Linked DNA regions of Homo sapiens. The protein of the gene in region 1 interacts with the protein of each later gene in a biochemical or structural test. Each region holds a gene or a part of one and is shown in the gene's direction. Other genes may lie near its edges. The genes, in order: CELSR3, CTCF and REST.

Region 1 (11,176 bases):
GTATTCCAGCCTGGCGACAGAGCGAGACTCTGTCTCAAAAAACAAAAAACAAAACAAAAAACAACAACAACAAAAAACAAAACAAGGTCTTAATACTGTTTTCTAGAAACTGTATATTTTCAGATGTCAAATTTATATGGAATTGATTATGCAAGCAGTGTGAAATAGAGATCTCATTTAATTTTTTCTATATGGATATCCAACTGACCCAGCATCATTTATTGAAAAGCCTATTCTTTCAGTTAATAGAGTTGCTCCTGGGGAAACAAAAAAAAGAAAACAACCCTTTCTTCATGTTAGCTCTGAAGAACCACCCTTGTCAAAATTCAAGTTTCCACACATCTTCAGGCCTGTCTCTGGATTTCGTTCCTTTAGTCTTCCTATCCTCGTACCAGTACCACACAATCTTGGTTTCTTTTTATTTTTTAATTTTCATTCTTTTTTTAGATACAGGGTCTCTTGCTCTGTTGCCCAGGCTAGAGTGCAGCATGTGATCATAGCTCACTACAGCCTCGACCTCCCCAGAGCTCACATGATCCTCCCACTTCAGCCTCCCAAGTAGCTGGGACTATACAGGCATGTGCAAAATTTTTGTATTTTTTGTAGAGATGGGGTTTTGCTGTGTTGCTCAGGCTGCTAAATCTAGTTTGTCAGTTTACACACACACAAAATCTAGTGGGATTTTTTTTTTTTTTTTTTTGAGACAGAGTCTTGCTCTGTCGCCCAGGCTGGAGTGCAGTGGCGTCAACTTGGCTCACTGCAAGCTCCGCCTCCCCAGGTTCACGCCATTCTGTCTCAGCCTCCCAAGTAGCTGGGACTACAGGTGCCCGCCACCACACCCGGCTAACTTTTGTATTTTTAGTAGAGACGGTTTCACCATGTTAGCCAAGATGGTCTCGATCTCCTGACCTTGTGATCCGCCCGCCTCAGCCTCCCAAAGTGCTGGGATTACAGGTGTGAGCCACCGCACCCAGCCAAAATTTAGTGGGATTTTTAACTGAAGTTGCATCGAATCCATATATCAATTTGGGAAAATTGGCACCTTTATAATATTGACTTTTCCAATATTGGAACAATTTTTCACTTTATTTATGTCTTTATTTCTCATTTTTTTTACTTTTTTTTTTTTTTTTTTTTTCAGATAGCGTCTGGCTGTGTTGTCCAGGCTGGAGTGCAATGGCATGATCTTGGCTCACTGCAACCTCTGTGTCCCAGGTTCAGGCACTTCTGCCTCATCCTCCAGAGTAGCTGGGATTGCAGGTGCACAACAGCATGCCCAGCTAATTTTTTTTTTTTTTTTTGAAACGGAGTCTCGCTCTGTTACCCAGGCTGGAGTGCAGTGGCGCAATTTAGGCTCACTGCAAGCTGCACCTCCCAGGTTCACGCCATTCTGCTACCTCAGCCTCCCGAGTAGCTGGGACTACGGGCGCCCGCCATCAGGCCCGGCTAATTTTTTTTTGTATTTTTAGTAGAGACAGGGTTTCACCGTGTTAGCCAGGATGGTCTCGATCTCCTGACCTCATGATCCGCCCGCCTCAGCCTCCCAAAGTGCTGGGATTACAGGTGTGAGCCACTGCACCTGGCCAAGCTAATTTTTTTGTATTTTTAGTAGAGATGAGGTTTCACCATGTTGGCCGGACTGATCTCTAACTCCTGACCTCAAATGATCCACCCACCTTGGCCCTCCAAAGTGCTGAGATTTCAGGCATGAGCCACCAATGCCAGGCCTATGTCTTTATTTCCCTCAATAATGTTTTATAGTTTTTTTGTATGTGTGTATGTAGTCTTTGCACATCTTTCATTAGGTTTATTCCTCAGCATTTGATATTACTTGATGCTATTGTAAACATCATTGTTTTTAAGAAAAAAAATTTTTTTTTCTCGTTCACTGCAACCTCTGCCTCCCAGGTTCAAGTGATTCTCCTGCCTCAGCCTCCTCAGTAGCTGGGACTACAGGTGCCCACCACCACGCCCGGCTAATTTCTGTATTTTTAGTAGAGACGGGATTTCACCATGTTGGCCAAACTGGTCTCAAACTCCTGACCTCAGGTGATCTGCCCGCCTTGGCCACCCAAAGTGCTGGGATTACAGGCTTGAGCCAACATGCCCAGGCAAGAAATTTATTTTCTAACTGTTGGTGACATATAGAAATTGCAACTGATTTTTATATATTGATCTTGTGTCCAACAACTTTGCTGAACTCATTCTAACAACTTACCTATAGGTTCCTTTGAAATTTTTACATATACAATCCTACTGCTTGTGAATTAGTTTTTTTTCCCTTCCAATCTTCATAACTTATTATTTTTCTTGCCCTACTGCACTGGATAGGCCCTCCGATATAATACTGAGGCTTGTGGTCATGAATATAAAATGAGACCAATTAGCACGGTTGTTTGTTTTTCTCCAGCAATGTTCTGCTGCGCTAGAGGCAAACAATACGTAAATAGTCTATTTTAACGGGGTTAGATTTTAGCCCAGCAAGTTTGTCTAAGAAGAACAGGGCAGGCCGGGCACAATGGCTCATGCCTGTAATCCCAGCACTTTGGGAGGCCGAGGCGGGAGCATCACAAGGTCAGGAGATCGAGACCAGCCTGGCTAACACGGTGAAACGCCGTCTCTACTAAAAATACAAAAAAAAAAATTAGCTGGGCATGGTGGTGGACGCCTGTAGTCCCAGCTACTCGGGAGGCTGAGTCAGGAGAATGGTGTGAACCTGGGAGGCAGAGCTTGCAGTGAGCCGAGATCGCGCCACTGCACTCCAGCCTGGGCGACAGAGCAAGGCTCTGTCTCAAAAAAAAAAAAAAAAAGAAAAAGAAAAAGAACAGGGCAGGGAGTTTCCGTGGCACTGAACTCTATAAGGCTAATGACACAGGTCAATAGCTGAGGTGATGAACAATGGACTCGAGATCTCAGTGAGGTCAAAGAACTGCTGGATAATTGAGCTGGACAGGTTGGCCAGGTCTTCCCCTGGAAAGGTACACCTGGCTGGGAGTAGACAAACACAGGGTGGGGTGGAAAAGGCAGGAGAAGGAAAGGCTGAGAAGTGTTAGTGGCAGTATCTGCCACACCCTTACCCTGGTCTTCTGATCGCTCCATCTGCCGCCCAGCAGCCTCAAATCCAGGTCTCTGGGTCCTGGGTGGACCTCTAGTTGGGAGCTGATAAGAGAAGGAGGATAGGCTGGGCACGGTGCCTCATGCCGGTAATCCCAGCACTTTGGGAGGCTGAGGCGGGCAGATCACTAGAGGTCAGGAGTTTGATACCAGCCTGGCCAACATGGTGAAGCCCCATCACATGGTGAAGCCCCATCACACCACTTCACTCCAGCCTGGGTGACAGAGTGAAACTCCATCTCAAAAAAAAAAAAAAAAAAAAAAAATGAGGTTAAACCACATAGGGGTCTTATTAGGAGGCAAGGGCAAGATTTGGAGGTGGAGAGAAGAACTACCACCACTATCACTAACATCTGGTTTTTGTTTTTTTTTTTTTACCGGGAGTGCATTAGGAGCTGCCAATGGGGCTGGGGCATAGAGGTGAGTGCAGATTGAGGGAGAGGGGCTCCACAGAACAGCCACAAAGGGAGGATGACAGTGGGATGACACACAGCAGGCAGCAACATGGAGAGTGATCCGCAATCAATCTCACTACTCAGAAGTGAGGAGCTTTGCTCTCCAAAAGGAGTGTTAGCTGGGACCAGCGCCAGCCCTATTGGTGAGAGGGCAGGGCTTGATTTCCCTCAGCCATAGTCCCTTTATGTCTCTGCACATTTGCCCACACAGTCTCCAAGACCTAGGATGCCCACCCCCAATCCCTATCCCTCCCTGCCCTTCCTTTGCAGATGCGGATCTCCCCTTGGTCATTCAAGGCACTGCTCAGGCATCTTATGCAAGAAGGCGTCCCAGGTTGCGAAGGTGACTCAGACGCCTCCTTTGGGACTCCAACACCCTTCCCCGGCAGAGCCCCTGCCTGTCTGCCTCCGTGGTGTCAGGTTTTGTGCCCTCTACTCACTAGATTGTGGACACAGAAAGCGCTGGTGCTGTCAAAACCACTTCTGGGTTGCCGGGCGCGGTGGCTCACACCTATAATCCCAGCACTTTGGGAGGCCAAGATGGGCGGATTGCTTGAGCCCAGGAGTTCAAGACTAATCTGGCCTACATGGTGAGACCCTGTCTCTATAAAAAATGCAAAAATTAGCCAAGTGTGATGACATGTACCCGTAGTCCCAGCTACTCGGGAGGCTGAGGTGAGAGAATCGCCTGGGGAGTTCGAGGCTACGGTGAGCTGTGATCACCACTGCACTCCGAAAGAGTGAGACCTTGTCTCTAAATAGATAAATAAAACTACTTTGGGGGACTCGCTCCTCCAGCCCCTGCACCGATTGGCTCCCATTCAAAGGAGTTCAGCCCTAAGTGCCTCTGCAGATCTTCCACCCCCACTCACAAACCCGTAGGAACCCCGGCCGTGTATCAGGCCCAGAGCTCTGATCCTGGGGAGGTCCTCAGATTCGTAGACAGGAGAGGGAACAACTGGACACCTGTTGCCTGACCTTGGTAGCCACAAGGGGCGCTCGGGAGGTGGAACCCGCAGAAGCCCCGCCTCCCGGAAGCGGAGCAGTCAAGGGGCGAAAGGATGCGCCGACTGATTGGTTGATGGTGATGTCATAGGGACCGTTCGGGGCGGGCCAGAGGCCTTGGCCAGGAGTTCCTCGCCTGTTAGAACCAGGATCCACCCCATCGCGGGAGCCGCACCCTGTGGAGCGTTCTGGGGTCCCGGCCCTGACCTCTTCCTGGGCTTCGGGATGCCCGCGTCCTCTGCACCCGGCGCTGCAGCTCGTTATCGATTCCGCCTTTGGAGGCCGGTCCGTATAGTGTACCTCCCGGACTCTCTCACGGTTAGCCGGCAACCCGCGGAGCCCCCTCCCCCATGCGATGAGTCCGCCGTGAGGGGCGGGGCCTCCCATTGTGCCAATAGAAACAATGACTGACCGATTGGAGTGCTCCGCGTTCACCCCTCGCCTCCGCTCCTCTCGTGACGTCTGTTGCGCCAGGTCCACCCATTGGCCTGGCGAGACCGGCGCGTGCCAGGAGTTACGCAGGGAGAGCTGGAATGCACCGAGGGTGGGGGGAGGACTGAGTTTCTGTGTCAGTCCCTTCAAGGGGTTAAGGCATGCGGTCGTGACGGACGAGGGGCGGGGACCCGAAGAAGCGGGGCCCGCAGCCATGGGGCAACGCCGGGCTCCACGTGGCATCCCAGAGCACTCGGGACTCGCAGCCTGGGAGGGGGTGCAGCCTCCAGTGAAGGGGCCCCGAGCCCGGGAGACTGCTGGGGACCAGCAAGGCAGGGAAGAATTTGGCCTCTGCTCCCGCCTCGGGAGGGTCATCTCTGGTCCCTGCTCCGCAGGGGCGATCCAAACAAGCAGGTGGTCGCGACATGTTTCATAAAACTAGCTGATGGGATAGTTAAAGCTATTGTTCGGGGTGCTGGCACCCCAGACCCCTCTCCAGCCATCGTCCCCTCTACCCCAGGATTTCACACAGTACCCCCTCCCAGAGCTATGAGAACGCTCATGGGCACCAAAATTTCAGACCAAAATCCGGGACACGGTTCAGAACTAGTGGTCAGGAAGGGGGAACAAGAGATCTGGAAGGACAGAAAAAGGCTGGGAGACGGAGCTGGGACAGCGCCCTAGAAGGAGGGAGGTGGGTGAAGGCGGCGACCGAAAGTGGGGAGGGCGGACCCAACGACGGCGAACCTTCGCGCTCTGTTCAGCACCAGGAGCAACGCTCACGTCCTCAATAAAGATGGCGGCAACATCTTCGGTCCTCAGAGCTGCCATGCGCGATGGGTTGTACCACCGTGTTTCGGGCGCCGGGGCAGAGGTGGAGCGAACCATCGGGGCGGCCGGGAGCCATGTTGGAGCGGCGGGAGGCGGCAGCAGCGTCGGGGATGCTGTGGTGGGGGCGGAAAAAGCCAGGGCCGCACGCCGGAGGGGCTCCGGCCGCGGAGTAGATGGTGCCCAGAGGGCGGCGGGGGTGCGGAGAGACAGGCGGAGGGGCGGGGGCCCGGGGCGGCGGCAGGGGCCCGGGAGGGGGCCCGAGCGGCGGGGCCAGCCCAAGGCCCGGACCGGGGCGGGGGGCGGTGGAGGCCGTGCAGGGAGGCGGGGGATGATGGCGAGGCGGCCGCCGTGGCGGGGCCTCGGGGGACGGTCGACCCCCATACTCCTGCTCCTTCTCCTCTCTTTGTTCCCCCTCAGCCAGGAGGAGCTGGGGGGCGGTGGGCACCAGGGCTGGGACCCAGGCTTAGCTGCCACTACGGGGCCAAGGGCGCATATCGGTGGCGGAGCCTTAGCTCTTTGTCCGGAGTCTTCCGGGGTCCGGGAGGATGGGGGGCCTGGCCTGGGGGTCAGGGAGCCTATCTTCGTGGGGCTCCGAGGGAGAAGGCAAAGCGCCCGGAATAGTCGAGGGCCCCCTGAGCAGCCGAATGAGGAGCTGGGGATTGAACACGGCGTCCAGCCATTGGGCAGCCGCGAACGAGAGACAGGACAGGGACCAGGGTCTGTGTTATACTGGCGCCCAGAGGTCTCCTCTTGCGGGCGGACAGGACCTTTGCAAAGAGGTAGTCTGTCACCAGGGGCTCTGTCCTCAGGGGTCCCGGGCTCGGGGAACAGCTCGCCCCTCCCTTCAGACTTTTTGATTCGGCACCACGGTCCCAAGCCGGTGTCCTCCCAGCGGAACGCTGGGACAGGCTCCCGCAAAAGAGTGGGCACCGCGCGCTGCTGTGGGGAATTATGGGCAACAGGGAGCAAGGGTCAGGGCGAGAGAGCCACGACATCCGGAGCAGAAAGGACAGCCCCCCGGCGGAACTGTCTTCCAGGGGCCTCGGGATCTGGCCCCGAGCTGGATTCAGCACCACGCACGGCGAGGACAGCTCCTGCATCAGGTTCAGCACCCCGCGAGTCTCGGACAGCTCCCGAGCCGGCGCCCAAGCGCATGCGCTCCCGGGGTCTCTTCCGCTGCCGCTTCCTCCCGCAGCGCCCCGGGCCGCGTCCCCCGGGACTCCCGGCCCGTCCTGAAGCCAGGAAAGTAACCTCGGCGAACCGGGCACGCTTTCGTCGCGCCGCAAACCGCCACCCGCAGTTTCCGCAGTACAACTACCAGACGCTGGTGCCGGAGAATGAGGCAGCAGGCACCGCGGTGCTACGCGTGGTTGCTCAGGACCCGGACGCCGGCGAGGCCGGGCGCCTAGTCTACTCGCTGGCGGCACTCATGAACAGCCGCTCGCTGGAGCTGTTCAGCATCGACCCGCAGAGCGGCCTTATCCGTACGGCGGCAGCTCTGGACCGCGAGAGCATGGAGCGTCACTACCTGCGTGTGACCGCGCAGGACCACGGGTCGCCGCGCCTCTCGGCCACCACGATGGTGGCCGTGACAGTAGCCGACCGCAACGACCACTCGCCGGTTTTTGAGCAAGCGCAGTACCGGGAGACCCTTCGCGAGAATGTGGAGGAGGGCTACCCTATCCTGCAGCTGCGTGCCACTGACGGCGACGCGCCCCCCAACGCCAACCTGCGCTACCGCTTCGTGGGGCCGCCAGCTGCGCGCGCTGCAGCTGCCGCCGCCTTCGAGATTGATCCACGCTCCGGCCTCATCAGCACCAGCGGCCGAGTGGACCGCGAGCACATGGAAAGCTATGAGCTGGTGGTGGAAGCCAGCGACCAGGGCCAGGAACCCGGGCCGCGCTCGGCCACTGTGCGCGTACACATAACTGTGCTAGACGAGAACGACAATGCTCCTCAGTTCAGCGAGAAGCGCTACGTGGCGCAGGTGCGCGAGGATGTGCGCCCCCACACAGTCGTGCTGCGCGTCACGGCCACTGACCGGGACAAGGACGCCAACGGATTGGTGCACTACAACATCATCAGTGGCAATAGCCGTGGACACTTTGCCATCGACAGCCTCACTGGCGAGATCCAGGTGGTGGCACCTCTGGACTTCGAGGCAGAGAGAGAGTATGCCTTGCGCATCAGGGCGCAGGATGCTGGCCGGCCACCGCTGTCCAACAACACGGGCCTGGCCAGCATCCAGGTGGTGGACATCAATGACCACATTCCTATTTTTGTCAGCACGCCCTTCCAAGTTTCTGTCTTGGAAAATGCTCCCTTGGGTCACTCAGTCATCCACATTCAGGCAGTCGATGCAGACCATGGGGAGAATGCCAGATTGGAGTACTCCCTAACTGGTGTGGCACCTGATACTCCTTTTGTGATAAACAGCGCCACTGGCTGGGTCTCTGTGAGTGGTCCCCTGGACCGTGAGTCTGTGGAGCATTACTTCTTTGGTGTGGAGGCTCGAGACCATGGCTCACCCCCACTCTCTGCCTCAGCCAGTGTCACCGTGACTGTGCTGGACGTTAATGACAATCGGCCTGAGTTCACAATGAAGGAGTACCACCTACGACTGAATGAGGATGCAGCTGTGGGCACCAGTGTGGTCAGCGTGACCGCAGTAGACCGTGATGCCAACAGTGCCATCAGCTACCAGATCACAGGCGGCAACACCCGGAATCGCTTTGCCATCAGCACCCAGGGGGGTGTGGGTCTGGTGACTCTGGCTCTGCCACTGGACTACAAGCAGGAACGCTACTTCAAGCTGGTACTAACTGCATCTGACCGTGCCCTTCATGATCACTGCTATGTGCACATCAACATCACAGATGCCAACACTCATCGGCCGGTCTTTCAAAGTGCCCACTACTCAGTGAGTGTGAATGAAGATCGGCCAATGGGTAGCACCATAGTGGTCATCAGTGCCTCTGATGATGACGTGGGTGAGAATGCTCGTATCACCTATCTCCTGGAGGACAACCTGCCCCAGTTCCGCATTGATGCAGACTCAGGAGCCATTACATTACAGGCCCCATTAGACTATGAGGACCAGGTGACCTACACCCTGGCTATCACAGCTCGGGACAATGGCATCCCACAGAAGGCAGACACTACTTATGTGGAGGTGATGGTCAATGACGTGAATGACAATGCTCCACAATTTGTGGCCTCCCACTATACAGGGCTGGTCTCTGAGGATGCCCCACCTTTCACCAGTGTCCTGCAGATCTCAGCCACTGACCGGGATGCTCATGCCAATGGCCGGGTCCAGTACACTTTCCAGAATGGTGAAGATGGGGATGGAGATTTTACCATTGAGCCCACCTCTGGAATTGTCCGTACAGTAAGGCGGCTAGACCGGGAGGCAGTATCAGTGTATGAGTTGACTGCCTACGCAGTGGACAGAGGTGTGCCCCCACTCCGGACTCCAGTCAGTATCCAGGTGATGGTGCAGGATGTGAACGACAATGCACCTGTCTTCCCAGCTGAGGAGTTTGAGGTGCGGGTGAAAGAGAATAGCATTGTGGGCTCAGTGGTGGCCCAGATCACTGCAGTGGACCCTGACGAAGGCCCCAATGCCCATATAATGTACCAGATCGTGGAGGGGAACATCCCTGAGCTGTTCCAAATGGACATCTTCTCTGGAGAACTGACGGCACTCATTGACCTAGACTATGAGGCTCGCCAAGAATATGTGATTGTGGTGCAGGCCACATCTGCTCCTTTGGTCAGCCGGGCCACTGTGCACGTCCGCCTGGTTGACCAGAATGACAACAGCCCTGTGCTCAACAACTTCCAGATCCTCTTCAACAACTATGTATCCAACCGTTCAGACACCTTCCCGTCGGGCATTATTGGGCGCATCCCAGCTTATGACCCCGATGTCTCCGACCACCTCTTCTACTCCTTTGAGCGTGGCAATGAGCTGCAGCTGCTGGTAGTCAACCAGACCAGTGGGGAGCTGCGACTCAGCCGAAAGCTAGACAATAACCGCCCACTGGTGGCCTCCATGTTGGTGACTGTCACAGGTGAGGGGCAGGGGGCAGGCAAGTGACCCAGTGACACCAACCTGTTGGGCCTCAGGGACTCCACAGGGCACCTCAAACCAAAGAGGGATTTCTAAGCCTTCCAAGAACCCCTTAAGGGTAGGGTTCCTGCACCCTACAAGATCTGCCACAGACCTCACAAGGACTCTGCTTAGGTTCCTGGATAATCTCCACAGAATCCCAGTGATTCCAAGGCATCTAGCAGACCCCATAAAGCCTGTAAAGAACTGTCTGCTACCTAGGGATATCTCCCCTCCTGATAAAAGGTCAGAGGTCCTGGGGTAATCCTCTGGAGGTCCTAGGCAAAGCCAGTATGGGCCAGTCAGTCCACACTATGCCCATGTTCAGACGAAGGGTTACTTTGGGTCCAGTCTGACGCTTACCCTATCTGTGCAGGAAATGACCAATACTTGAGTGGTCAGGAACAGCAGCTTACTATGGAAGCTTCAGGTGGACAGTGGCTTCGTAGGGCCTGAGACCCTGACCTTTGGGAAAATGTCCAGAGGTCCACTTGCCTCTTTCCTGCCCCATCTGCTCCAGTCTTTCAGAAACCCCTCCATAATAGGAGAGTGCAGGTGGGAGAGGCTCTTGAAGTTCTGCCTACTGGAGGCTGCAGAGGTTGGGAAATAGGCTTCACTGGTGCTCATTCCTCAGTTCTGGAGCAGGGACTCCTGGCACTGCCTGAGAAGGCACAACCTTCATTTATCCCTCAACTCACTCAACAGTCTATCCTTATTGACCACCCAGTATGTGCTAGGGTGTGGGGACAAGACGAACAAGGCAGCTAAGCACCTCACCTTCATCTCTGGGGTGGTCACTGTGAAACCACAGGACCCAGGTCTGGAGTGGCGAGCAGGCTGCTAACTCAAGAATGCTGGTGTGTGTGTGTGTGTGTGTATGTCAGGGTTCAAGACCCCCCTGGAGCTTGATAACCCAGGATTCTGGAGGATGGCATTGAGTCTTCACTGGGCCAGGGCCCCTTCTAGTGTCATGGAAGAGCAATTTGCTGACCAAAAATAGGAGATAGGTGATCCCTGATCTGGAACCCTTCTTTTCTGGAGGGGGATGTTTTGCTGGTTCTGCTATGCTGGAGGAGGGGAGAAGGGAAAGGTGGCTGGGAATGAGTGGCCAGTGGCCCTAGCTCCTCTCTGTGTCCTGAGTTGGGGTGGCCTGCTGACCATGATAACTTGGGGAAGTGTGGGTTACTGAGTACTTAGGGTACTTGAGTGCTGTTGCGGGAGTGAC
Region 2 (10,452 bases), on another chromosome or scaffold:
CTAAACTGTGTCCTTATTTTATCAGAAACACATTTGGAGCAAAGTAGTGGCCACAAGAACCTCAGAAAGCTTTGTTGTGCCAGGGATGAGCTGGTGTTGAGAGGAGTGGATCAGACGTAAAGTACAGAGTGAAGACAGGGAGATGACAGTAGGAACTGTGTCTGGATGAAAAGACAGCTTGACTGAAGGGGAGAGTGCTAGAGGGCAAGACATAAATCTGAATAGGTTATCATGGGGTCAGGTACGAAGGGGCTTTGTGAGCCAGAAGGGTGGTAAGTGCATCATGTAGTTTTTGCAAAAGTAGAGACACACTTTTTGAGGAAATTAAGTCTTCTTCTTTGTGAAATGAGTGAATCTTTACTTCTCTGCCCAGAAAGCATAAGTGGTTTTCCATTGCCAGTCATCTGAGGTATTTTGTTATTCAAGACCATCCAAACTATGGGGGGCAACCAGCACATCTTTCACCTGTCTTACTACCCTCTCCTCTGTCCTGTGCTTTAAGCCAGTTCTTTTTCTTACTCATAACTAATTCCCACATGTATTTATTGTACCCAGAAATCCAAACCTTTCCCCTACAGAATACATCCTCTGCCCTCCACTGTCAAACTCTGCCTTTAAATGTCCTGCTCACGTTTCAGGGTTCCGTTCAAATTCCACATTTATGAAGCATTTTTCTATCACACCTGGTTATGTTATCTTTCTCCAAACCTATGTAATTTCACCTTGAACCATTGTGCTACCTATTTTGTCCTTTATGTTAGACAGTAACTCCTAGAATGTAGGACCAGGCCTCCCAAAATGCTGGGATTACAGGCGTGAGCCACCACGCCCGGCCCCTATTTTGCTCTTGTTTAGGTAATGTCATTCTCTCTGTAGTAGTTCTTGTGCTGCCTCTCAGGTGGTCCTGGCTTAAGGAGTCTTCTCTGACTGCTATCATGGATATAATACAATGTTAAGGTGCCTAGACAGAGAATTGGAGAAAAGTGTGTCTAATAGAACTAACAAAAGCTTCGTTTGAGCTGTATTCTTGGCCAAAAATACAAAACACTTCAATGTTTTGTTTTGGGTTTTTTTTTTTTTTTTTTTTGAGACATAGTTTCACTCTTATCGCCCAGGCTCCAGGCTGGAGTGCAGTGGCACTCGGCTCACTGCAATCTCCGCCTCCAGGCTTCAAGCAATTCTCGAGCCTCACTCAGCCTTCCAAGTAGCTGGGATTAGAGGCACACCCCACCACACTCAGCTATATATGTTTTATTTTATTTTAATTATTATTATTTTTTTGAGACAGAGGCTCGCTCTGTTGCCCTGGCTGGAGGGAGTACAGTGGCCCAATCTCAGCTCACTGCAACCTCCACCTCCCAGGTTCAAGCAATTCTTCTGCCTCGGCCTCCTGAGTAGCTGGGATTACAGGCATGTGCCACCACACCTGGCTAATTTTTGTATTTTTAATAGAAACGGGGTTTTGCCGTGTTGGCCAGGCTTGTCTCCATCTCCTGACTTCAAGTGATCTGCCCGCCTCGGCCTCCCAAAATGCTGGGATTACAGGCCTGAGCCACCACGCCTGGCCCCTATTTTACTCTTGTTTAGGTAATGTCATTCACAAGATTTTTGTTTGTTTTTTATTTTTTGTTTTTGAGACCGAGTCTCACTCTGTCGCCCAGGCTGGAATGCAGGGGCACTTTCTCAGCTCGCTGCAACCTCCACCTCCAGGGTTCAAGTTCTTTTCGTGCCTCAGCCTCCCAAGTAGCTGGGATTACAGGTGCACACCACTACGCCTGGCTAATTTTTGTATTTTTAGTAGAGATGGGGTTTTGCCATGTTAGCCAGGCTGGTCTTGAACTCCTGGCCTCAACTGATCCACCAGCCTTGGCCTCCCAAAGTGCTGGGATTACAGGCGTGAGCTACCGTGCCCGGCCCATTCACAAGATATAAGAGCCAAAAACTATGAATTGGCTGATTTGTTTTCTGCTTTCTATTATATATTCAATTTGGTTGGCATTTATTGAGTACTTACCATCCTGGGCACAGTGCTAAAGAGTAAAAACCGTGGCTGGGCGTGGTGGCTCACGCCTGTAGTCCCAGCACTTTGGGAGGCCGAGGCGGACAGATCACGAGGTCAGAAGTTCAAGACCAGCCTGGCCAACATAGTGAAACCCCGTATCTGCTAAAAATACAGAAAATTAGCCAGGTGTGGTGGTGGGCACCTGTAATCCCAACTACTCCGGAGGCTGAAGCAGGAGAATCACTTAAACCTGGGAGGCAGAGGTTGCAGTGAGCCAAGATCACGCCATTGCACTCCAGCCTGGGCGACAGTGCGAGACTCCGACTCAAAAAAAAAAAAAAAGTAAAAACCGGTTGGGCGCAGTGGCTCACACCTGTAATCCCAGCACTTTGGGAGGCCGAGGCAGGCGGATCACGAGGTCAGGAAATCGAGACCATCCTGGCTAACATGGTGAAACCCCGTCTCTACTAAAAATACAAAAAATTAGCCGGGCATGGTGGTGGGCGCCTGTAGTCCCAGCTACTCGGGAGGCTGAGGCAGGAGAATGGCGTGAACCTGGGAGGCGGAGCTTGCAGTGAGCGGAGATCGTGCCACTGCACCCTAGCCTGGGCAACAGAGCGAGACTCCGTCTCAAAAAAAAAATTAAAAAAAAAAAAACGACTTGTTAGATGTGGTTCTTATTCTCAGGGAATTCCTGATCTCATTGTCAGGAGAGAGGTGAATGTCAAGTTGATGGTATGACATGGGCAGTTTTGTGCAGTGTCTACAAACACGGCCATTGCAGTCTGGATCTAAGTTCTGAGTTTGGCTTCAAAAAACAAGGTCAAAAACCCTTGACAGGGTGGGGAAAATGGGGAATTGCTGTTGAGTGGGTATAAAGTTTCAGTTATGCAAGATGAGTAAGTTCTAGAGATCTGCTACACAACATAGTTCCTGTATTAATCGTATAGCATTATGCACTTTGAATTATGTTGAGGATGGATCTCATGATAAATATTATCACCAAAAACAAAATACAAGGAAATTTTGGAGGTGTATTTAGTGTTTTTTTTTTTCTTTTTTGAGACGGAGTTTCGTTCTTGTTGCCCAGGCTGCACAGTACAATGGCGCAATCTTGGCTCACCGCAACCTCCACCTCCCGGGTCAAACGATTCTCCTGCCTCAGCCTCCCAAGTAGCCAGGATTACATACAGGCATGCACCATCACACCTGGCTAATTTTGTATTTTTACTTAGGACGGGGTTTCTCCATGTTGTTCAGGGTGGTCTCGTACTCCCGACCTCAGGTGATCCACACACCTCAGCCTCCCAAAGTGCTGGGATTATAGGCGTGAGCCACCACGTGCTTAATAAAGCTACCTTAATAAAGCTTTTTACAAAACATTGGCAGACCCGGGCACAGTGGCTCAGTCACATGTATAATCCCAGCACTTTGGGAGGCTTAGGTGGGAGGATTGCTTCAGCCCAGGAGTTCAAGGCCAGTCTGGAAATGTGGCAAGACCCCATAATTGCAGAAAATTAAGCTAATTCATATATGCATCATCTCACATCCTTGTCATTTTTTGTGATGAGAACACTTAAAAATCTGCTCTCAGTTATTTTCAGGTATACGTTATTATTAACTGTAATATTCATGTTGTATAATAGATCTCTTGAACTTATTCCCACTGAAATTATATGTCCTTTACCAGTGTCTTCCCCACTACATGTGTAAGATTTAAATTAGTTTTGTTAGTAATTCTTTAATATCATCAGATATCCAGAGTTGAAATTTCTAATTGTCTTGTGTCACATCTTTTTCACCATTTATTGGTTTGAATCAGGATCCAAAGAAGATTCATGCATTGTGATTGATTACTGTCTCTTTAAGACTCTTTTATCTGTATCAGAGTTTCTCAGCCTCAGTGCTCTTGACATCTTGGGCCTGATAATTCTTTTTTTTTTTTTTTTTGAGATGGAATCTCGCTCTGTCGCCCAGGCTGGAGTGCAGTGGCGCGATCTTGGCTCACTGCAAGCTCCGCCTCCCAGGTTCACGCCATTCTCCTGCCTCAGCCTCCCAAGAGCTGGGACTACAGGCGCCCACCACCACGCCCGGCTAATTTTTTTGTATTTTTTAGTAGAGACGGGGTTTCACCGTGTTAGCCAGGATGGTCTCGATCTCCTGACCTCCGGTAATCTGCCCGCCTCAGCCTCCCAAAGTGCTGGGATTACAGGCGTGAGCCACCGTGCCCGGCCTGGCCTGATAATTCTTTGTGGTGGAGGACTGACCTGTGTCTTGGAGGATGTTTAATAGCATCTCTAGCTTTCACCCACGAGATAACAGTAGCACATCCCAGCCCAGTAGTGACAACCAAAAATGTGTTAGCCAAATGTTCCTAGAGGCAAAGTCACCCCAGGCTGAGAACTACTGATCTACTGGTTCTCCCTCCAATCAGTCTTCCCTTGTATTCTTCTTGTTATCTATTTGCAGAAGAACCTGAGTATAATCTTGCAGTGTTTCCCTCGGTATGGATTTCACTGATTTAATCCCTGTAGTATAATTTAACATCCTGAGTCACCAATTTCCTGTTAATTGGGTTGGATCTAGAGACTTGATTGGTTTCAGAGTTTTGGAGTTTGTTTGACAAAATTGCATTATAGGTAGTGGTTTTTTCTTTTTCTTTTTTTTTTTTTTTTTTTTGAGATGGAGTCTTGCTCTGTCCCCCACGCTGGAGCGCAGTGGTGCAATCTCGGCTCACTGCAAGCTCCGCCTCCTGGATTCAAGCTATTCTTCTGCCTCAGCCTCCCGAGTAGCTGGGACTACAGGCGCCCGCCACCATGCCTGGCTAATTTTTTTTGTATTTTTAGTAGAGACGGGGTTTCACCGTGTTAGCCAGGATGTTCTCGATCTCCTGACCTCGTGATCCGCCCGCCTCAGCCTCCCAAAGTGCTGGGATTACAGGCGTGAGCCACTGCACCTGGCCAGTAGTGGTTGTTTCTTTCATCAAGAGGCACATGTCTGTTGTGTCTTTTTTAATATTAACAACCATTGATGCCTAATTCATTCACCAAAGGGTCTTTTTGTTTTAAAATGTATATTTTTATTTAGACATGCTTTGCTTTAAATAACAATCTGTGTTCTCCCTTAATAAAGGCAGGGGAAATGGAAGGTGATGCAGTCGAAGCCATTGTGGAGGAGTCCGAAACTTTTATTAAAGGAAAGGAGAGAAAGACTTACCAGAGACGCCGGGAAGGGGGCCAGGAAGAAGATGCCTGCCACTTACCCCAGAACCAGACGGATGGGGGTGAGGTGGTCCAGGATGTCAACAGCAGTGTACAGATGGTGATGATGGAACAGCTGGACCCCACCCTTCTTCAGATGAAGACTGAAGTAATGGAGGGCACAGTGGCTCCAGAAGCAGAGGCTGCTGTGGACGATACCCAGATTATAACTTTACAGGTTGTAAATATGGAGGAACAGCCCATAAACATAGGAGAACTTCAGCTTGTTCAAGTACCTGTTCCTGTGACTGTACCTGTTGCTACCACTTCAGTAGAAGAACTTCAGGGGGCTTATGAAAATGAAGTGTCTAAAGAGGGCCTTGCGGAAAGTGAACCCATGATATGCCACACCCTACCTTTGCCTGAAGGGTTTCAGGTGGTTAAAGTGGGGGCCAATGGAGAGGTGGAGACACTAGAACAAGGGGAACTTCCACCCCAGGAAGATCCTAGTTGGCAAAAAGACCCAGACTATCAGCCACCAGCCAAAAAAACAAAGAAAACCAAAAAGAGCAAACTGCGTTATACAGAGGAGGGCAAAGATGTAGATGTGTCTGTCTACGATTTTGAGGAAGAACAGCAGGAGGGTCTGCTATCAGAGGTTAATGCAGAGAAAGTGGTTGGTAATATGAAGCCTCCAAAGCCAACAAAAATTAAAAAGAAAGGTAAAACGAGTTTATCCATAGTGGTTTCATAAAACCATTTTGGGATAAGCATACAACACAGTGCATATGCAAGTTGTTTTATATTAACCGTATTTGTAAAAGGTCGTTATGTGGGTACCGTTCTTTAAAACCAGTCTAAAATAAGTTTTTTCCAGATTGAATGCTCTTTTTTTAATCCCAAAGAAGAAGGAAATGTATTAGTGACATGAGATAATTATGACTTATATTGGGTTTTGTTATTAAAAGCTAATCAAATATATTTGTAGAAATTTAAGATTAGGATTAATCTTAACACTTTGAAACTCTGCAGCAAGTAAGTGTTTTATTTTGCACATAGGTGTAAAGAAGACATTCCAGTGTGAGCTTTGCAGTTACACGTGTCCACGGCGTTCAAATTTGGATCGTCACATGAAAAGCCACACTGATGAGAGACCACACAAGTGCCATCTCTGTGGCAGGGCATTCAGAACAGTCACCCTCCTGAGGAATCACCTTAACACACACACAGGTGCTGGATAAGAATGTTGGGGGCTACAACAGCAAATGCTCAGACTTCGCTTTTTAGTATTCATTCAAGCTGACTCCAGCGGGAATTTAAAGGAAGTTTTTATTATTTCTTATGATGCCCTTTTTGTAATCATGATTTTATTGTAAGCACTTGGACTTAGTTATTATAGACAAATGTAAAGAAAATTTAATGAAAAATAACACCCTCTCTCTTAAAAAAAAGAAGTCTCAGGCAATAGATGCCTGGTACTATGAGGAAGAATGTTAGAAATAGAAGTGAAATCCCAGTGAAACCCTGTCTCTACTAAAAATACAAAAAATTAGCTGGGTGTGGTGGTGGGCGCCTGTAGTCCCAGCTACTCGGGAGGCTGAGGCAGGAGAATGGCGTGAACCCGGGAGGTGGAGCTTGCAGTTAGCCGAGATCCCACCACTGCACTCCAGCCTGGGCGACAGTGCGAGTCTCCGTCTAAAAAAAAAGAAAAGAAAAGAAATAGAAGTGAAATCCTACCTTTATTTAAAAAAAAAAAAGTGGCCGGGTACAGTGGCTCACGCCTGTAATCCTAACACTCTGGGAGGCTGAGGTGGGCAGATCACTTGAGATTAGAAGTTGGAGACCAGCCTGGCCAACGTGACAAAATCACATCCATCTGTACTAGAAATACATAAATTAGCCAGGTGTGGTGGCGGGTGCCTGTAATCCCAGCTACTCAGGAGGCTCAGGCAGGAGAATCGCTTGAAACCTGGGAGGCAGACACTGCAATGAGCTGAGATAGTGCTACTGCACTCCAGCCTGGGCGACAGAGTGAGACTCCATCTCAAAAACAAACCTTAACATTTTTTGTTTCTGGTTGTTTCACGTCAAGGAAGATAATTCATAATTTCAGAATGGAAAAGCTAAGGCACCATTCTGATAATTCAAACATTTATTTGAGCATCCTACTTACTTTAGTGTTCAGATATTCTGATATTAGCTTCATGTTGGCTGTGGCCAGGTTCCCTGAGGTCTCTAAAGTAGAGGGACTCTGTGCACTAAACCTCTCTTTAAGCTTTCCTGAGCTATTTGTTATCCCAGTGTAGGAAGTTGGTTGCAAGTCTTCTCACATGGTTTTTCATGCAGAATAACTTCATTTCATATGACAACTCTTGTTTTTGATTTTTAGGTTTTTAAAAATTTCTAATGACAACCCTTGTTTTAGATTTGTTGTGCTGGTTGTCAGATGACCATGATCAAGTGGGTGTTAATCATAAACAGTATGCTGCACATGGGCACATTCTTCACTAATGTGACTTACTTTTAAACATCTCCCTAATTTCTACTCAGACACTTGATAATATGTTTTATTTGATACTTTGAAGACACTAGGATGGGGCATATGACTAAATAAAAGTAACTGGGTAATCCCAGCACTTTGGAAATCCAATGGGGGGTAGATGACCTGAGGCCAGGAGTTCTAGACCAGCCCGGCCAACATGGCAAAACCGCCTCTGTACTGAAAATACAAAAAATCAGCTGGGTGTAGTGGCACACGCCTGTAAACCCAGCTACTTGGGTGGCTGAGGCAGGAGAATCACTTGAATGCGGGAGACAGAGGTTGCAGTAAGCCAAGATTGTGCCACCGTACTCCAACCTAAGTGACAGAGCAAGACTCTGCCTCACCAAAATAAATAAATAAATAAATAAATGGCCCCATAACAGGACTTCCCAAGATGGGTGTGCCTTGGTGTGGGCATTCTCTATCTGGTCTTCAGCTTTGAAAGTAAGAGGTACAGTCTATCTGGTTACTCAGCAGATTTGGCAAGACTGATTCATACCAACAAAACCCATAAGAGCAGATGCATACACCAAGAGTATCAGTTTATGGTGAGGAGTATACCTTTTCATGTTCCAGATGCAGTTGCATTGCATTCTAGGGGGCGCCTTTGCCTCTGTTACGATGCTGTAGCAGCCGGGCGCCGTAGCTCTCGCCTGTAATCCCATCACTTTGGGAGGCCGAGGTGGGTGGATCACCTGAGGTCAGGAGTTCAAGACCAGCCTGGCTAACATGACGAAACCTCGTCTCTACTAAAAATATAAAAATTAGCCGGGCGTGGTGACGCATGCCTGTAGTCCCAGCTACTCGGAAGGCTGAGGCAGGAGAATTGCTTAAATCCAGGAAGCAGAAATTGCAGTGAGTGGAGATCGCACCATTGCACTCCAGCCTGGGCGACAGAGTGAGACTCCATCTCAAAAAAAAAAAAAAAAAAAAAAGATGTTGTAGCAATTGAAAGCTAACTTGGTGAGGATGAGCCTTGATGGCTGGGCATGGTGGCTCACACCTGTAATCCCTGCACCTAGGGAGGCTGAGGCGGGTGGATCACTTGAGGTCAGGGGTTTGAGACCAGTCTGGCCAACATGATGAAACCTCATCTCCACTAAAAATACAAAAATTAGCCAGGTGGCCGGGTGTGGTGGCTTACGCCTGTAATCCCAGCACTTTGGCACTTTGGGAGGCTGACGCGGGCAGATCACCTGAGGTCAGGAGTTCAAGACTAGCCTGACCAACATGGGGAAATCCTGTCTCTATTAAAAATACAAAATTAGCCGGGTGTGGTGGCACATGCCTGTAATCCCAACTACTCGGGAGGCTGAGGCAGGAGAATCACTTAAACCCAGGAGGCGGAGGTTGCGGTGAGCTGAGATCGTGCCATTGCACTCCAGCCTGGGCAACAAGAGCAAAACTCGGTCTCAAGAAAAAGCCAGGCATGGTGGCCCATGCCTGTAATCCCAGCACTTCGGGAGGCTGAAGCAGGCGGATCACAAGGGCAGGAGATCGAGACCATCCTGGCCAACATGGTGAAACCCCGTCTCTACTGAAAATAGAAAAAAAAAATGTTAGCCAGGTGTGGTGGCATGTACCTGTAGTCCCAGCTACTCAGGAGGCTGAGGCAAGAGAATTACTTCAACCTGGAAGGTAGAGGTTGCAGTGAGCCAAAATCATGCTACTGCACTACAACCTGGGCGACAGAGCAAGAGACTCCGTCTCAAAAAAAAGAGGATGGGCCTTGAGTGAAGGGATGTAGGTGGTCATGTGGCACAGCCTAATGGAACTCCCTGCCCCACAGCAGTGTCCACTTCTTTGCTAATTGCCACGCTTATGCAGGCCTTTCTCTGCCCTGGATAGTACTAGGTAAACACGAGCATTTATTTTTTAGCTTACTTTGTTCTAAAAGAAGACCAAGCATGGTGGCTCACAACCTGTAATCTCAGGACTTTGTGAGGCCGAGGCCGGAGGATTGCTTGAGCCCAGGAGTTTGAGACAAGCCTGGGCAACGTGGCAAGACTCCATCTCTACAAAATAGAAAAAATTAGCCAGGCATGGTGGTGCAAGCCTGTAGTCTCAGCTACTGGAGAGGCTGAAGTAGGAGGATCACTTGAGCCTGGGAAGTCAAGGCTGCAGTGAGCCTTGATCCTATCACTGCACTCCCACTGGGTAACAGAGGAAGACCCTGGCTCAAAAACAAAAAACGAAAAGAAAATTGGATGCCACTTTTCTTCTCTTGTTAATTGTTTTACTTCTTATCCATACCACCAGACTATACACTTTCACAGGAAGAACTCTGTGCTTTACCGTTAGATCCATAGTGGTTCTAAAGAATCGAATGAACAAATGAACATTCCTTGGAATTGCTTAGTTTTTATTATACTCCAGTCACTCTTCCTCTCCAGCATTCTCTTCATTCTCAAAGAGAATCATTTCTGCAGATGGCTGGTTCTATTCATTACATTGTGGCTCTTCCTAATTGTATCCTCAAAGGCAGCCTTCCTTTGGTTTTAGTGTTTGATACTACCTTGCTGTCACCCCTTACCTGCTGCCCACAATTACAGATGGTCACTAGTCTGTGAAACTAGCACTGCATTGTGCTCTCAGTTTTGTCTCTAAGATTCCTTCAGTGAAAGACAAGAAATGTAGAGAGTATATTATTCATGTTTTATATTGGATGAATTGACATTCAGAATGATCACAGCATATTAGACATGGAT
Region 3 (10,850 bases), on another chromosome or scaffold:
TCCACCCCCTGGGCTCAAGTGATCTTCCCACCTCAGCCTCCCGAGTAGCTGAGATCACAGGTGCACACCACCACACCTAACTTTTTGTATTTTTGGTAGAGACAGGGTTTTGCCATGATGCCCAGGCTGGTTTTGAACTTCTGACCTCAAGTGATCTGCGCCCCTTGGCCTCCCAAAGTGCTGGAATTATAGGCATGAGAACCGCACCCAGCCCTTGTTGCATTTTATACTTAGCTTTTTAAACTTTTAGCCATTCTAGTAGGTTTAGTGATAATTTTTAGACAAACAAGGAAAATGTACAGGTTCATTAATCTAGGAAACATTTATGCATAAAGCCAGTGCCTGGCTTTAGCTTTGGGTTGATACACTTTGCCAGAAGTTTGATTTTATTTACTGTGTCAGGAATATCAGCATGTTGAGAACACACAACACAGTTTCTTGTCTCTAGACCCTCTCAGACAGATGAGAAAGACATGGGAAAGAAAACAGGCGCAAGAGTATACTTATGGCACTTTAGGAGTTCATGTGGGAAGGTTTTAACCTCTCCTTGGGAAGAAGGGAAAGGTTGCCAGAAGTTGTCTTCTGAGTCAAGTCCATATTCCTCTAAATTGATGATTAGCTTTGTAAATTAACATGTCAATGTTGGCTCTTGAGTGTTTTAAATGCCATGGAAGACAATAAGGGCTTCTGCTTCCCAAGCCAGAAGGTAATAAATCTTTTTTTTTTTTTTTCGAGACGTGGTCTTGCTGTGTCACCCAGCTGGAGTGCAGTGGTGTGATCCTGGCTCACTGCAGCCCCAATCTCCTGCACTCAAGCAATCCTCCTACCTCAGCCTCCCAAGTAGCTGGGACTACAGGCACACCTCACCACACCAGCTATTTTTAAAAAATTATTTTTACTAGAGATGAGGTCGCACTGTGTTGCCCAGGCTGGTCTCGAACTCTTGGGCTCAAGTGATCTTTCCACTTCGGGCTCCCTAAGTGCTGGGATTACAGGCGTGAACCACTGGGCCTGGCCCAGAAGGTAATTAATCTTAATATAAAAAGTAGGCTTCAGAGTTATGGAATTGCGGATCTGAAAAGTCCCCCTATCTCAAATATATACATCTCTAAAGCCATTGTACATAGTGGCCCATCAGGCCCCAAAGATTAAAAGATGTTTTCGGGAATAGGGCCAGGGTAGAGCAGAAAGAAGACTGGACAAAGTGTCTGAGAGACATGGAAAGAGCACCGGACTGGCTGGAAATTGAGTCATGGGTCCTACCTCCATCTGTGCCCTAACTACTTGTGCAAACCTGGACAAGCCAAAAGCTTGTAGGCCTGTCTCCTTTTACATATAAAACAAGAGCCTGCACCTCTAAGATCTCTTGCATTTGTGACATTTTGTGGCCTACATAACATTTGGAGGGAGAATTCTGGAAGGAAGGACAATGGTAAAGGCCAGAGAAGAGAGAGGCAGAGCAATGCAGTTGATAGGCTATGTAACTTGTATTTAAACCCATCAAATGGAACGATACCTAAGGTTGAAACATTTTTTTTTTTTTTTGAGATGGAGTTCTGTTCTTGTTGCCCAGGCTGGAGTGCACTGGCACGATCTCTGCTCACGCAACCTCCGCCTCCCAGGTTCAAGCCATTCTCCCGCCTCAGCCTCTTAAGTAGCTGGGATTACAGGCGTGTGCCACCATGCCCAGCTCATTTTGTATTTTTAGTAGAGACAGGGTTTCTCTATGTTGGTCAGGCTGGTCTAGAACTCTCGACTTCAGGTGATCTGCCTGCCTCAGCCTCCCAAAGTGCTGGGATTACAGGCGTGAGCCACCGCACCTGGCCAAAACAGATTGTTAATGATCACCAAGGAATATCCAACCAGAGGCTGATGCGTGAAATCAGGAATGTGCTAGGAATACAATATGCAGAAGAGCAGGCAGGGAGATTTTCACCAGGAGGGTAGAACCCCAAGACCAGGGATCCAGGAGCATTAATTTATTTAACAGTAGTTATTAGGGAGATTCAAGGAGGCAGGCTCATGCTTAACATGAGGGAAGACTGTGATGGGTACTGAACGTTGGGTACCGACATGGGTAAGGATGGTCCCCACTTTGAGAGATTGTGATACCAAGCTAGGATTTTGTAACCATTCATCTAACTAATATTTGTTGAGCAACTAACGAGTTATAGGTGCTGGGGATAAAAAAATGTCTCTGCCTTTCTGGAGCTTAAGTTCCTAAGTAGGGTAAATAAATAAAAATACCTAGCATGTTAGTAATAAATGTTAGAGACAGAAACAGCAGGGAAGGGCATTAGGATTGGACGAAAATGGGAGCAGAAACAGCAGGGAAGGGCATTAGGATTGGACGAAAATGGGAGCGGGTTCCAAATGTGATCTAGGCTCCAAAAGAAGGCAGGAAGGAGCCCAGCTCAAGTCTCAAGTTCTCTTGTTCACCTCCTTCCCTTCTCAGCATGAAGGGAAAACCTCCCTGGCTCAAGCTGTTGATGCCTATAATGAGTAAGACACTATTCCAGTTATCAGAACCAGAACAAGAGGTCAGAGTCCAACCGGCAGCAAGAGTAGATGATGCTGGCTGGACTCGGTGGCTTACACAGGTAATCCCAGCACTTTGGGAGGCCGAGGCGGGTGGATCACCTCAGGTCAGGAGTTCGAGACTAGCCTGACCAACATAGTGAAACCCCATCTCTACTAAAATACAAAAATTAGCTGGGCGTCCTAGCGGGTGCCTGTAATCTCAGCTACTCGGGAGGCTGAGGCAGGAGAATTGCTTGAACCCAGGAGGCAGAGGTTCCAGTGAGCCAAGATCTTGCCACTGCATTCTAGCCTGGGCGACAGAGCAAGACTCCCAGGCGGGGTGGCTCACACCTGTAATCCTAGCACTTTGGGAGGCCCAGGCAGGTGGATCATCTGAGGTCAAGAGTTCAAGACCAGCCTGGCCAACATGGTGAAACACCATCTCTACTAAAAATACAAAAATTAGCCAGACAAGGTGGCACGTGCCTGTAATCCTAGCTACTCGGGAGGCTGAGGCAGGAGAATCACTTGAACCCGGGAGGTGGAGGTTGCAGTGAGCCGAGATCGCACCTTTGCATTCCAGCCTGGGTGACAGAGCAAGACTCCATGTCAAAAAAAAAAATAATATATATATATATATATAATTGGCCAGGTGTGGTGGCTCACGCCTGTAATCCCAGAACTTTGGGAAGCCGAGGCAGGCGGATCACCTGAGGTTGGGAGTTCGAGACCAGCCTGACCAACATGGAGAAACCCCCGTCTCTAACTAAAAATACAAAATTAGCTTGGCGTGGTGGCACATGCCTGTAATCCCAGCTACTCGGGAGGCTGAGGCAGGAGAATTGCTTGAACCCGGGAGGCGGAGGTTGCGGTGAGCCGAGATCGTGCTATTGCACTCCAGCCTGGGCAAAAAGAGCCAAATTCTGTCTCAAAAAAAAAAAAAAAAAAAAAAAGAAAGAAATCTCTCTAGAGAAAATACTATTAAGAACATATGATAATTAAAATAAAAAAATTGATGAGTTAAATATGCAGGAAAAAAACCATATAAGAAAAGCAGAACTCATTCTCATTTCAGAGTTTTTATCTTGCAGAAGATCCTAAAGTTTGGATACAGCAAAGTAAAATACAGACTTTTGAAAAACAGTTAGGAATTCAAGTTCATAGCAACAGCTTCCCTCAAGAAAATTTTCAATTGATTTGTAATTTGGCCTATGAATTTGACCTGTGGCCTTCATGTCATGATAATTTGGGTCACTCTGAATATGCCATCCCTTGAACAAGGGCCTCTGCTAATTTTAAATGAATGCAGCTGCCCATTCGCCATTCTTCTATTTGCATCACAATATGTGGGAATAAATTTGCAATTAATAAGACATTTCCAGTAAGCAGTCAGATTGAGGAAATGAAGGACATTTAGTAAGTTTAACAAGAGACATTTCATTTTTGCCTTTTTGGACCTAAAAAAGGGAAAGAAAACAAGTTTATGTCTTTGACAACCTTGGTAGAGGCCTGAATTGTACCCTGGGCTACAGCATCTAAAAAAGCCATGTGACCTCAAACTTGATTTTAGTTAAACAAATAAAATATATATAGAAAAGTTTGTACCAGTCCTAAAAATGTCGATCTTCCTTTCCTCCCTCCCTCCCTCCCTTCCTTCCTGTCTCTTTGGTTCAATGAAAATGAATACTTTTCAGGTTTGATTCATGGAGAGGTGTTACATTTGAAATTGCCTCATTGAAACTTTTGGTGGTCGAGCACCTTAGGGTCTTCATTTCATCTTGCATCGGAGACTGCATTAATTAGTAATATATTGTCCAGATAGAGGGAAACAGAGGTCCTACGTGGGTATACCAGGAAATGAAGAGTCTGGAAGCCCTGCCCTAAGAGAAACAAATAAAGGAACTTCAAAGAGAAGGAAGTGAGGTACCCTGAGGAGAAGCTGGGATGTCTTAACAACTGCTTTGGGATTTTGAGCTTGCCCTTTTCACTGTGTAGAGTGTTCCTTGCCCTACTTTCCACCTGTTGAAGTTTTCCTCATTCTCCAAGGTCAGACTGAATACATCTACTGTGAAAAGTTTCTAGAACCTCTTGGGATCCATCTTCCTACTGGCAAACCCCCATAGCACTTGCTACTTATGTTGTAATACCAAGCAATAGTCAGACTTATCTAGGTCAAGTTAAGTAGGGGCTTGAACGCCACACTAAGGGGTTTAAGCTTTAAGCTTGTAGTCATGGGGAGCCACTATGCTTCTGAGGACAGGTGTGACTTACGACTGACGTTTAGGAAGGTATCAAAGGCAGACTGAGAAGCTCTTTCAGGTGTGAAAGGGGGTGGAATTACTCTCTCTCTGTTCTTTTTTGTTGTTTTTGTTTTTGTTAGCACATGACTATGGGCTAGGCATTCCGCTTGGTTATCCCGCTTCATAGACGTGAGCCCGGTTACTCCGACACACCGTGGCCCCAGGCAGCCTCCCCGTCCTCACCACCTTTTCTTCTGTCATCTGAGGGTAATTCCTCCCCTGCAGTCGTGCTTTCCGGGCTCAGCAATGACCTGCTACCTGCCACGTCTAGGGATCTGTCCCCTCAGTCCTCACGCTCACGCTTTCTGAGTCCATAACCTCCTTCCTGAAACGTTTTCTTCTCACTTCTCCCAAACTGACTGCATTCCCCCTCCGGTAGTTTGAAATTTGGAAGACTTTTTTTTTTTTTTTTTTTTTTTACCGCAGACGCTTAAAACGAAGCTTAATTAGTCAAGGACAGCTATGGGTGGAGACTTGAAGAGATCTGAAGGGTATCTTGGAGCGCTTTAGACTTGAGAGGCCGGTGACAATAGCTCTAAAGAGACCCGTCAAAGCCTGCGGATTCTTCTTTTAACAGCTCTATTCTCATGCATGCACGCCAGGGCTGGGGGGAACTTTTGTTGTTTGTTTGTAATAGAAATCGAGAAAGGGAGTGGGGCCCGCCTCTTTTCTGACCTAAGGGCAGGAGTGAGGGGCCGGGAGGATTACGGGCGGCTCCCCCTAGACGCGCCCCCAGGCGAGCTGGAGACTGGGGCACTCCTTGCTTGGTAGAGGGGCGGGGCGCGCCTAGCGGCCACGCGCGCGGGCGTCGGAGGGGGCGTGTCTCGCGGGCGCGCGCGGGCGTCGGAGGGGGCGTGTCCCGCGGGCGGTGGCGGCGGCGGCGGCGCGGACTGGGTGCGCGGCGCAGCGTCCTGTGTTGGAATGTGCGGCTGCCGCGAGCTCGCGGCGCAGCAGCGGAGCGAGCGCCGCCGAGGCCCGGGGCCCCAGACCCTGGCGGCGGCTGCCGCAGCCGAGACGGCAGGGCGAGGCCCGGAGGCCTGAGCACCCTCTGCAGCCCCACTCCTGGGCCTTCTTGGTCCACGACGGCCCCAGCACCCAACTTTACCACCCTCCCCCACCTCTCCCCCGAAACTCCAGCAACAAAGAAAAGTAGTCGGAGAAGGAGCGGCGACTCAGGGTCGCCCGCCCCTCCTCACCGAGGAAGGCCGGTAAGTGGGGCGCTGGGCTGGGGGCTCGGTCAGGGTGGGGGAGGGCCGCCCGGGCGGCGGCAGTGGCGGGACGGGGAGGGCGCGGAAGGACGCGGAGTCAGGCGCTGTCCAGGGCTGATTTGCAGATACTGTGGCTCCGGCGGCGGCGGCCCCGCCGGGCGGGGGCTGGCGGCCGAGCAGGATCGGGTTACACAGCAGCCGCCCGGGGGCTGGGGGCGTTTGTTGGGAGCAGCGCGTCGCCTGGACCCCCTCCCCACTGGAGGCTGGGACGCCGCCTCCGCGCTGGCCCGGACGCTCCACCGAGTCAGGTCCTTTGAGGCCAAGGAGCGGAGCTGCTCGGGCCCGTAGTCCTGAAACTTCCTCTGCTTCCTCCTCCTGCCCCCGGGTCCCACCGCAGCCCCGCGCCGGCCCGCGGCCCTCCTGGCCCCCTCCCCCAGGGCCTCTCCCTGTCGCCGGAAGGCGCCGTTGAGTGCGGCCGGGCGGGTTGAGTCAGCCCCGGGGCCCGGGCGGTTCCGCCTGCGGGGCTGGACAGCGATTTCTGCGCTTCAGCCGTCCGGCGCCGCTGGCCCCCGCGTCCGGCCACCCGACCGCTGGAGCTGGCGGGGCTGGGGCGCGCGTCCTGCCGGGCGCCGTGGGGGAGTGAAGTTCGCAAACTTCCGGGGCGCGGGGGTGGCGGCTGGCCCGTGTGGGGGCCCCCTCCGGCGCTCGGAGCCCGACGCCTCGCGAGGGCGCCCGCGGAGCCTCCCCGGCCCTGGGCGTTGGGCGAGCCCCGGGGCGGTCGGAGGGGCCCGGGGGCGGTCGGAGAAGCCCGGACGCCGGCTGCGCGGTAACTTTCCGTCCTCTCCCGGGACGGGGGCCCTAGGGCTGGGGAGGGGGCTGCCTGGACTCGGGGAGGACTGGTTCCGGCCAAACAGCGCCTCGAGCTTGATCCCCTCCCCCGTTTTAGTGTTGGAGAGCGCAGGAAAAGGCTCAGGACGAGTGTCGGGGCGACTCCCGCGAGTTGGTGTGTAAATGTGTGCAGTGAGCGGGCCGAGGCGAGAGGAAGCGAGAGCGCCCGAGTTTGCAAAGAGCTGCTTTGTGTTTGGTATTTTGAGAAAATGGCCGAATGCCTATTTCAGTTAGGAATGCCGCCGCCGAGGCAGGCGCTGGTGGCAGCAGCACGGAGGAATTCGTGCAGCACGTTGGGCTTTCGGGCTGTGCCTGGACGGTCTTCCTAACAATCGTTAAAATTCCATTTGGGGTGGCAGTTAGGGGTTAGGGAGCAATTAGAAAAGTCGATGTTGGGCCAAATTACCCAATAGCTTGGGCTGTTCAGCCCCGGGACAGCCTTCGCCCTCTGTTTTCTGTGATGGCATTTGCTTCCAACTTTTGTTGGTACGTAGAACTAAACCGGTTTGTGTTTATACACTTGGGTGAAGCGGGTTACTTTTTGTATTTTCGGTTTAACTTTATTTTCTTAGAACTTCTTACTTTTTTTAATTTGCGAGTGAACACTTCGTTTGAGAATGGCACCTTTTAGATTGAGAAGTAACGTAGCATCTAGAAAGCCCAACTTGTTTTGAAGAAGGTGATCTTGTAATGGCTTCCACTAGGCAAGTAGGCCAAGTCAAGCACAATGCAAGAAAGTTGCTGATTGTCGAGTTGAGTTGCACGATGATTTTATTCGTATTGAAAAGCTTGGAATTCAGTGTTGTGGAACTTCAGCCTGCAGAAAAATAAGCTTATTAATTTTTATTTGTGAAGTTTTGAATAAATCAAACTTCCTTTTTCACAAGAAAAGGGGTCCATAAATGTTTTTTCTTTTAAGCCTGTGGAGTTGTCGAAAAATTAAGGGGCTGACTGCTACTTTTTCACAGTAGTTTATTCTTTTGGAGTTAGTTGAGTTCATGCGAAATCCAATTAAGTTGAACAATTATTACAGGCTTGTACTTTCCAGATGTGTTTGTGTACTTAATAAATGCACTGAATGGCTTGTGGATTTCTGGGCTTTCTGATTCAGACCATTGAACTGTTGAAGGGGGGAAAAGTTGGGAGGACAATAATTTACTACTCATGTTTTGAATTTTTAAAATAATTTTAACAGTAAAAATGAAGGTTACTTTTTATCCCCACCAGAACAATTAAAAGTGCTTGAGGAGGCACCACATGCCAGTGGCTGAATGATGAATGAGTTGTGCAAACAATTGGTAGAATTGTTTTATAGGGATAGTAGAAATTTTTTTTTGGTGATTGCAGTAGACTATTGGGAATTAACAACTATTTTAAAGATTTGTTTTTAATAGGCGATGAAGTTTACTGAGTTATAAAGATCATACTGGAAAATTTTTAAGTTATGAAGAATTACAGCGATGTGGTTTTAAGCCAGTAACAGTAGTGTTTAAACTGGTGCTCTTGTTTTGTTTTGTTTTTAATTCAGAATACAGTTATGGCCACCCAGGTAATGGGGCAGTCTTCTGGAGGAGGAGGGCTGTTTACCAGCAGTGGCAACATTGGAATGGCCCTGCCTAACGACATGTATGACTTGCATGACCTTTCCAAAGCTGAACTGGCCGCACCTCAGCTTATTATGCTGGCAAATGTGGCCTTAACTGGGGAAGTAAATGGCAGCTGCTGTGATTACCTGGTCGGTGAAGAAAGACAGATGGCAGAACTGATGCCGGTTGGGGATAACAACTTTTCAGATAGTGAAGAAGGAGAAGGACTTGAAGAGTCTGCTGATATAAAAGGTGAACCTCATGGACTGGAAAACATGGAACTGAGAAGTTTGGAACTCAGCGTCGTAGAACCTCAGCCTGTATTTGAGGCATCAGGTGCTCCAGATATTTACAGTTCAAATAAAGATCTTCCCCCTGAAACACCTGGAGCGGAGGACAAAGGCAAGAGCTCGAAGACCAAACCCTTTCGCTGTAAGCCATGCCAATATGAAGCAGAATCTGAAGAACAGTTTGTGCATCACATCAGAGTTCACAGTGCTAAGAAATTTTTTGTGGAAGAGAGTGCAGAGAAGCAGGCAAAAGCCAGGGAATCTGGCTCTTCCACTGCAGAAGAGGGAGATTTCTCCAAGGGCCCCATTCGCTGTGACCGCTGCGGCTACAATACTAATCGATATGATCACTATACAGCACACCTGAAACACCACACCAGAGCTGGGGATAATGAGCGAGTCTACAAGTGTATCATTTGCACATACACAACAGTGAGCGAGTATCACTGGAGGAAACATTTAAGAAACCATTTTCCAAGGAAAGTATACACATGTGGAAAATGCAACTATTTTTCAGACAGAAAAAACAATTATGTTCAGCATGTTAGAACTCATACAGGTAAGAGAAGCTTTCTAGTCCATAAGTTCAGTTCTCTTTTCTGATTGTTACTTGAGTGGTTAGTTAAGTAGTGCTTGAGAAAAAGGACTCTGGTTCAAATCCAGGTTCCATTTTGCTATCTTTGTGACCTTGCACAAGTTGTTTAACCTCTTTGTTCAGAAATTTCTCCATGGAGTAACAATATCTAGGTTGGGAGGATTATGTGAAGTTACATGTAAAGCACAGAGGAACAGCCAAGAGATCTTACCGTGGTCTTACTAAAGTACATATCCTAACTTGGGGTTTACCTTCAGCAAGTTAGACTGGCCGTGCATGGTGGCTCACGCCTGTAATCCCAGCACCTCGGGAGGCCGAGGCGTAAGGACTGCCTGAGCCCAGAAGTTCTAGACCAGTCTGGGAAACGTGGAAAGACCCCCGTCTCAAAAAGAAAACAGAAAAAAAAAAGTTTGTGTATTTATTTCTGTGACAGTGAACACATTTAAGATGCAGTGTAGTTTCTGAAAGAAATTGAGGGCTTATATAAAAAGGAAAACTCAGTGATTAACCTTGCACATGCCCACTTAACAAAAGCCTCAAACTTTAAAACATTTGACTTATAGCATTGAGTTCCTAAATGGAACAACTTGTCTTTGTCCACAAAAAAGAAATGTGAGAAGGTAGTTTTTAAAAGGTGGGTGGGATTATCACCAATTGAAACTATTTTCCTATGAAAGCAAACACTTGTAGAAAATGTATTTTTCAGACAATTATGTTTAGGGTGTTTGAACTGATACTAAGCGCAACTGTATAAAAAAAGTTGAAACTTTTTTTTTTTTTTTTTTTTTGAGACAGTCTGGCTTTGTCGCCCAGGCTGGAGTGCAGTGGCAAGATCTCAGCTCAGTGTAACCTCTGCCTCAGGGTTCAAGTGATTATCTTGCTTCAGCCTCCCTGGCTCAGCCTCCCGAGTAGCTGGGATTACAGGCACCCACCACCGTGCCTGGCTAATTTTTTTTTTTTGAGACGGAGTCTGGCTCTGTTGTCGAGGCTGGAGTGCAGTGGCATGGTCTTGGCTCACTGCAACCTCTGTCTCCCAGGTTCAAGCAGTTCTCCTGCCTCAGCCTCCTGAGTGGCTGGGACTATAGGTGCCCACCACCACACCCAGCTGATTTTGTATTTTTAGTAGAGATGGGGTTTCACCATGTTGCCCAGGCTGGTCTTGAACTCCTGACCTCGTGATCCGCCCACCTCAGCCTCCCAGAATGCTGGGATTACAGGCGTGAGTGCCACCCCTGGCTAATTTTTGTATTTTTAGTAGAGATGGGGTTTTGCCATATTGGCCAGGCTGGTCTCAAACTCCTGACCTCAGGTGATCTACCCACTTTGGCCTCCTAAATTGCTGGGATTATAGGGGTGGGCTACCGCACCCAGCCGAAACTTTTTTTTTTTTTTTAATTTCTTTTTGTGGAGATGGGGGGTCTCACTATGTTGCCCAGGCTGGTCTTGAACACCTGGCCTCAAGT

The links.
Region 2: the proteins of CELSR3 (region 1) and CTCF form a complex in vitro, tested with the Homo sapiens proteins (one study listed by BioGRID).
Region 3: the proteins of CELSR3 (region 1) and REST form a complex in vitro, tested with the Homo sapiens proteins (one study listed by BioGRID).

Annotation. Positions count from the first base shown.
Region 1 is NC_000003.12:48,657,624-48,668,799, reverse strand, and holds the start of CELSR3 (cadherin EGF LAG seven-pass G-type receptor 3 precursor), read left to right. Parts: upstream 1-5,913; 5' UTR 5,914-6,165; coding exon 6,166-9,913; intron 9,914-11,176. UniProt on the Homo sapiens protein: Receptor that may have an important role in cell/cell signaling during nervous system formation.
Region 2 is NC_000016.10:67,605,690-67,616,141, forward strand, and holds part of CTCF (transcriptional repressor CTCF), read left to right. Parts: intron 1-5,134; 5' UTR 5,135-5,143; coding exon 5,144-5,924; intron 5,925-6,261; coding exon 6,262-6,432; intron 6,433-10,452.
Region 3 is NC_000004.12:56,902,186-56,913,035, forward strand, and holds the start of REST (RE1-silencing transcription factor), read left to right. Parts: upstream 1-5,714; 5' UTR 5,715-6,028; intron 6,029-6,724; exon of another isoform or gene 6,725-7,402; intron 7,403-8,444; 5' UTR 8,445-8,453; coding exon 8,454-9,351; intron 9,352-10,850. UniProt on the Homo sapiens protein: Transcriptional repressor which binds neuron-restrictive silencer element (NRSE) and represses neuronal gene transcription in non-neuronal cells.